Regions from separate parts of the Homo sapiens genome. Here region 2 is reported to be linked to region 1. The links are microRNA targets in miRTarBase. Many come from high-throughput screens and were not tested one by one. Region 1 holds a microRNA gene; the other region holds the end of a gene's coding sequence.
The links. Region 1 holds the annotated microRNA hsa-miR-125a-3p (ACAGGUGAGGUUCUUGGGAGCC, at 1,908-1,929, shown strand). A microRNA usually pairs through its seed, bases 2 to 8, with sites in the 3' UTR of a target mRNA and lowers its output. Matches are read on the target gene's strand: a 7mer-m8 pairs with bases 2 to 8, a 7mer-A1 pairs with bases 2 to 7 and ends in A, and an 8mer does both.

Region 2: the mRNA of WFDC6 is a reported target of hsa-miR-125a-3p. The part of its 3' UTR that is shown has no 7-base or 8-base seed match.

What each region holds. Positions count from the first base shown.
Region 1 is chr19:51,691,399-51,694,922 of GRCh38, forward strand. MIR125A (microRNA 125a) reads left to right here and starts at 1,856; the gene lies at 1,856-1,941. SPACA6 (sperm acrosome associated 6) reads left to right here and starts at 1,932. Exons shown (of 9, transcript NM_001316972.2): 1 at 1,932-2,342; 2 at 3,080-3,157. The coding sequence starts at 2,129. It overlaps SPACA6-AS1 (SPACA6 antisense RNA 1), which reads right to left and starts at 2,058. Exons shown (of 2, transcript NR_108100.1): 1 at 1,236-2,058. It overlaps MIR99B (microRNA 99b), which reads left to right and starts at 1,214; the gene lies at 1,214-1,283. It also overlaps MIRLET7E. RefSeq lists an enhancer at 1-207.
Region 2 is chr20:45,531,486-45,534,710 of GRCh38, forward strand. WFDC6 (WAP four-disulfide core domain 6) reads right to left here. Exons shown (of 3, transcript NM_080827.2): 3 at 2,711-3,020. The coding sequence ends at 2,982. It overlaps LOC107987282 (a long non-coding RNA gene), which reads left to right. Exons shown (of 4, transcript XR_001754641.3): 2 at 1,789-1,841. Among named protein-coding and RNA genes, the nearest start is that of WFDC6, 6.4 kb to the right of the region's middle.

The DNA of each region.
Region 1 (3,524 bases):
GAGAAGGGTGAGAAAGAGGAGAGAGACTGAGAGAGGGCCAGAGAGAGAATGAGAGAGACAAAGAGGGGGAAGGGGGAGAAGGGGAGGATGAAAGACAGAAGGTAGAGGAAAAGCAGGAGAAAGAGGGGGAGAGAAGGAAGAAAACAGAAGCGGGGAGAGGAGAGAGGCGATGGGCAGAGAGAGAAGCCAGCGCAGAGCCAGGGAGGGATGTCCTGATGCAGGAGGAGGCTGGGAACCAGGGAAGGTGGAAAGAAAGAGGGAGAGAGAAAAAGGCAGGGCCAGAGAGACCTGGACTGCGAGAAAGGAACCGGAAGGTGCGCCTGGAGCAGGGGCAGCGAGAACCAGACAGTCCAGGAGGAGGGGCTGGGCACGGGAGAGACCCCAGCTGGAGGGGCTCAGAGCCCAGGGGTGGGGAGGGTGGGTGCTGGGTCCCGGGGTCCAGAAGCTGGAGAAGGCTGGGGACACCTCCTGGATTCAAGAGGGAGGACAGAGATGGGGCTGGGCAGACTTTGGGAGCCTCTTCCCCTCTCTGAGGCTCAGCCCCCTCACCTGCCAAATGGGGATGCTGAGGGCACCTCGCTCTCTGGAGTGGGAGGTGTCAGGGAGAGGACTGGTGCTCAGGGCCTGGTATGGGGTCAGCGCTGGGAGATTGTGGCTGTCATAGTTGTAAATGACCCAAAGAAGGGAGGAGAGAGGAAAGAAAGCACCTAGGGAGGCTCTGATGGTTGGCTAGCCCCTGGCCTCCTTAGCCCTGGGCCTGGAGTCTCTGCAGACTGACAGGAGGGTAGGTAGGAAGCAGGTGTGCCCAAAGGGCCAAATTACGAGACAAATGAGGTTCCCTCCCAGCCGGCACCCAGGAAGCCAGGTTTTCTATCAGGCCATGCCTTCCCCAGGAGGCCTGCCTGGCCGGAGGGAGGAGGGGCTGGGGGCAGGGACTCCTGGGTCTCTGGGGAGAAGGAGGCTTTGGATCTGGACTCATGAGTCTGAGGGAGGAAGGGGCTGAGTCCTTGGATTCCAGGAACATTTGGGGAGAAAAGGGCCAGAGGCCTGGATTCCTGGGTCTGTGGTGAGGAAGGGCCTAGACTTCTGGGTTCTTTAGGGAGGAGGGGGATGAGAGCCTTGACTCCAGGGTCCCTGATGAGGAAGGGGCTGAGGGCCTGGACTCCTGGGTTCCTTGGGGAGGAGGGGCCGGGGGCCCGGACTCCTGGGTCCTGGCACCCACCCGTAGAACCGACCTTGCGGGGCCTTCGCCGCACACAAGCTCGTGTCTGTGGGTCCGTGTCGGGGGCTCACCATCGCGGCTGGGGCCTCCCCGGCCCTCCCCCTCATCCCTGGTCCTCCTGGTCCCTGTCTGTCTGTCTGTCGGGTCTGTCCACCTGCCGCGCCCCCCGGGCTGAGGTAGGAGGTTGTATAGTTGAGGAGGACACCCAAGGAGATCACTATACGGCCTCCTAGCTTTCCCCAGGCTGCGCCCTGCACGGGACGGGGCCCGGCGGGGACCCCCAGCCCCACTCAGGGACCCTTAGCCCCACTGGGCTGCCCCAGGGACCCTGGGAGGAAGAGCCGGGCTCTTTTCTGTCCTTGTCCCTGCATCCCCTCCTTCCCCTGAAATCTGTTTTCCTTCCCTGTCTGTCTCCATCTCTGCTGTGTCTCTGTGGCTTCTGTGTCTCTTTCACAGTGGATCCTCTGACTCCCTCTTATTCTGGCTTTCTAGGTCTCTGCCCCTCCCGATATCTCTCTGTGTCTCTATTTCTGTCGTTTTTGGTCTTTCTGTCTCTGGCTCTCAGAATGTCTCTGTGCCTATCTCCATCTCTGACCCCCACCCCAGGGTCTACCGGGCCACCGCACACCATGTTGCCAGTCTCTAGGTCCCTGAGACCCTTTAACCTGTGAGGACATCCAGGGTCACAGGTGAGGTTCTTGGGAGCCTGGCGTCTGGCCCAACCACACACCTGGGGAATTGCTGGCCTGACTTCTGACCCCTGACTCCTCATACCCTTCCTCCAGAGCATGACATTTGACCACCAACTGAAACCTGACCTCTGACCCCAGACCACTGGCCCTTCCCCCGCCCTGTGGTGACTTCATAAAGGTTACTAGCTTCTCCCCTGGCCTTGAGACCCACACGATGGCCCTGCTGGCTCTGGCCAGTGCCGTCCCGTCTGCCCTGCTGGCCCTGGCTGTCTTCAGGGTGCCCGCCTGGGCCTGTCTCCTCTGCTTCACAACCTACTCTGAGCGCCTCCGCATCTGCCAGATGTTTGTTGGGATGCGGAGCCCCAAGCTTGAAGAGTGTGAGGAGGCCTTCACGGCCGCCTTCCAGGGCCTCTCTGACACCGAAATCAGTGAGGAGACCATCCACACTTCATCAGTGTCCTGGGGAAGGTGCAGAGGGAGGGCAGGAGAGGCCCAGAGGGTCAGGCTGAGGGACAGACAGAGAGAAACAGTCAGAGGAGAAAGGCTCAAAGACCATGAGAACAACAGAGACTTAGGGACAGAGAGACACAGACAGGGGAAGACAGCAGGGCAAAGACTCAGAGAGGGGAGGATGGAGAGTCAGAGAGGGGAAGATGGAGACTCAGAGAGGGGGAGGATGGAGACTCAGAGAGAGAGGAAGATGGAGACTCGGAAAGATGGAGACTCAGGAGTATGGAGAGTCAGAGAGGGGAGGATGGACACTCGGGAGGATGGAGAGTCAGGAGGATGGAGACTCATAGAAAGGGGAGGATGGAGAGTCAGGAGAGGTTGGAGACTGGAGAGGGAATAGAGACCCAGAGAGGGGAGGATGGAGACTCAGAGGGTGGAAGATGGAGACTCAAAGAGGATGGAAACCCAGAGAGAGGAGGACAGAGATGAGGCAGAGACTAGGGGAAGCAGGATAGCGACTGGTCGGGGGCAGAGACTCAGGGAGGATAGAGACTTGGGAGGGACTCAGGAAGCATAGCGACTGTGGGGCAAAGAGTCAGAGAGGGGAGGATACAGACTTGGGAGGGCAGAGACTCAGAAACAGAATGTTCGCATTAGGGACATGGTGTTGCGGGGAGCTGCCTCCCCCAGCCCCTGCTCCCTCCCTCACCGCCAGACTATGATGAGAGAAGCCACCTGCATGACACCTTCACCCAGATGACCCATGCCCTGCAGGAGCTGGCTGCTGCCCAGGGTGAGTGTGTGGGGATGGGGAGATGGGAGATGTGGACTTGGAGCCCCTAAGAAATGGGTATGTGGGAGGGCCCAGGGCAGAGGAAGGAGGCCCCCAGAGTTGGGCAGTGATCCGGGAGGGGAAAGCTGGGAAGACATTGAGCTCAGCTACTTGTCCAAACGAAGGCTGAAGGCAGCTCTAAGAGCCAGGGGCTGAAGGTGGTGAGGGGGAAGGGACGCTGCAGAAATTGCCTAGAGCTGGAAGTCCAGATGGGGTCGGGTAGGCATAGGTTCTGCCATGGCTGCATGGCTCACACTCTTACTGGCTATGAAGTTCTGGGTGTGTCACTGCCCCTCTCCTGGCCTCAACTTACCCATCTGTAAAGTGG
Region 2 (3,225 bases), not on the chromosome of region 1:
CTGTGAGCCACTGCTCCTAGCCCGTTTCCATCTTTGATCACCTATTCTGTGAATAAATTTTCTGAAAACTTAGCACTTTAAAGCAACCATTTTATATTGTGGGTCAGCCATCTGGGAAGCAATCTGCTTGGTGGTTCTTTTATAGGGTCTTTCCCATGGTTGCAGTCAGATGTCTGCTGGGGCTGCAGCCATCTGAAGGCTCTATTGGGTTGGGCATCTCATTTGCATGGCTGAAATTGATGCTGGCTATCAGTCAGAGCTTATCTGGGCCTGCTGATCACAGCACCCACATGGGTCTCTCTAGCATGGGCCTCTCTCAGAGTAGTTGGACATCTTACATGGCAGTTTCCCACTGCCCCCAAACAAGCTACATAAGAGGATCAAGTGGGACTTGCACTTATTCTAGCTTAGCCTTGGAGGTCACATAGCATCATTTTTGCTTTATTCTCTTGGTCAAAGCAGTCACAGAGTTTTCTCAGATTCAAAAGGAGGGGACATAGATCCCACTTCTAGGTGGAAGGTGAGTGAAAGAATTTTAGGACCTTGCTTTAAAACAGTCACACCATCCAGTGTCTTTTCCTCCTTCACCCCTTTCTTCTCCCTTCCTCTTTAACTCTTCTCTGCTTTCCTCCATCTCCCCCTTTCATGCCTGTCCAGCTATTTTCAATTTTGGAGTTTCTGCACCATACTATGGAACTGTCTTCTTTACTACAACTCCAGTAAACAAGTCCATGAGCCCTTTCAGAGACGGACTTACCATGAGGTCGATGGAGCCAAGCCTCAGGGTCCTCGCTCGAGCGAGCCCCTTTTAAGATTCTGGGAGTGCTTCTAGCTATATGTTTACATGGTCAGATGACTTGTAATATCTGCAAAAGTAAGATATTCTAACCATAATCGCCAATCCACCTTCCCTTTCCACTCTGACCTTTCCCTCTGTCACACTTCTCCTAGGTCAGGTGGTGTTTGGGCGACTGCCAGCATTTTAGGCATGCAAATTAAAAGGAAGTTGAGTTGGGGATATATTTATTTTGGAGTTAGTAGAATATATTTAGGTCGTTAGCTGTCATTTGTATGTGTAGGAAGTTGCTGCTAGCTGTCCTGGTGGAGAAGCAGCTGCAAATAATACTCCTGTTTTCTACTGGGCCTATTCCCTTGATGTTATGACACTAAGTTATGGGACTAGAGGTTGCACTGTAAAATGAATGTTCTTAGCCCAAGAAGGTTGCGGGTGGTAGAGGAGAAACAAGTTTTGAAATGTGTGGAGCCAGGAAAACAAGCCTGTGTAGCATTCTTTCAAATATCAGATACATCAATTTTTTTTTTGAGATGGAGTCTCACTCCACCGCCCAGGCTAGAGTGCAATGGCACGATCTTGGCTCACTGCAACCTCCACCTCCCGGGTTCAAGCAATTCTCCTGCCTCAGCCTCCTGAGTAGCTGGGGCTACAAGTGTGCACCACCACACCTGGCTAATTTCTTGTATTTTTAGTAGAGATGGGGTTTCACCACGTTGGCCAGTCTGGTCTTGAACTCTTGACATCAGGTGATCTGCCCCCTTCGGCCTCCCAAAGTGCTGGGATTACAGGCATGAACCACTGAGTCTGGTCAGATACATCACATTTTAATTAGAAAAAAAAAATCAGCTCTTATGGAAGCCTGTTCAGAAGTTCTTTTGTAGTAAGCATATACTTGATAATTCAATATGTACAATTTTAAATGTACCATGCATTTTTTCTTTTTTTAATAGAGTTGTACAAAAGATAATTTATTAAAATTCCTGTGTTTCTAGGACACAAACCTGTAACAGAACTGCAGACATCAAGCATGGCTTCAAGCATTCAGGTACATGTTTTATCCAATTCACCTATAATAAAAATTAAAATATCATATTTTGATCCCCACATTAAATAAAAAGTTATCTTTCCATTCTCTCCACAGAAATAGTGCTTTACAGAATTGAGGTCATAAATGTAAACAATGAATTATTAATTTATATGGGTTTTGTGCAATTTTTACTGTTTGTCAGCCTTTAAAAATTTGCAGCTGGTTGCAATTTCCCTCCTCATTTGAAATAATATTCTCTTTTGTACTCATTTGTGCTTGGTTTCTTTCTTTTTTCTTTTCTTTCTTTCTTTCTTTTTTTTTTTTTTTTTTTTTTGAGTTTTGTTCTTATTGCCCAGGCTGGAGTGCAATGGTGCAATCTCAGCTCACTGCAACTTTTGCCTCCTGGGTTCAAACAATTCTCCTGCCTCAGCCTCCCGAGTAGTTGGGATTACAGGCATGCACCACCACGCCTGGCTAATTTTGTATTTTTAGTAGAGATGGTGTTTCTCCACGTTGGTCAGGCTGGTCTTGAACTCCTGACCTCAGGTGATCCGCCCTCCTTGGCCTCCCAAAGTGCTGGGATTACAGGCGTGAGCCACCGTGCCCAGCCTGTGCTTGGTTTCTAAAGGAGCTCCTCATTTATCAGGTTTAGACCATACAAAATCTGGATCTGCACTGGCTCCATTCTTCAGCATCTTAACGACAACTTTACCAAAGTAACAATGTCACTAGCATTCTCAATTTGCAGGATTTTCATACTCTCTCCCTTTTTTGGTGTCACCAGAAAATGCAATGGCTTTTTGTTCTCTGAAAATTGCATATAGAGAGATGTGAGTGTATGTCAATATCAGCATATTGCAGATGTGAATTATTCAGCCTCGGAGAGATCGGACCCCACAGAGCACTTTATTAAGGCAACTGAAGCCTTCATACAAATAAATGGGGGGTCTGAAAGTTGAAGACATAGAGTTTCATACTGAGAAGTGGTCAAGGGGAAGAGCATTGTGTTTGAAGAGATGCTACGCTGGAAGAAAGTGTGTAAGCAATTCCTGGGGTTCAGTTTCTGGAACAGCCAAGGTTTGGCCCGTGGAAGCCAATTTGGAGCATCAATCAGGCACACGTGGAGAGAGGCCTGGATTATGAGCCAAATCCTGGAGGTTATTCAAGCTCCTCCTTATGGTATAAAGTAAGGCTGACCTGTGAAGCAGAAGAATAAAGGGTGAGATGCTTGGACCCTGACCACATTAGGAACCAAATCTTGCACCTAATGGGAAAAAGGAGGTGGGATCATTTTTACATCTTTGGGCAGGAATGGAATGAAGGTGAGTTTGGGGGCTCCTAGAATGATCATGAGTTCTGACTTGTCCAGTAGAGTCCCAGTTTATGCCTGTTGTCTCAGTGT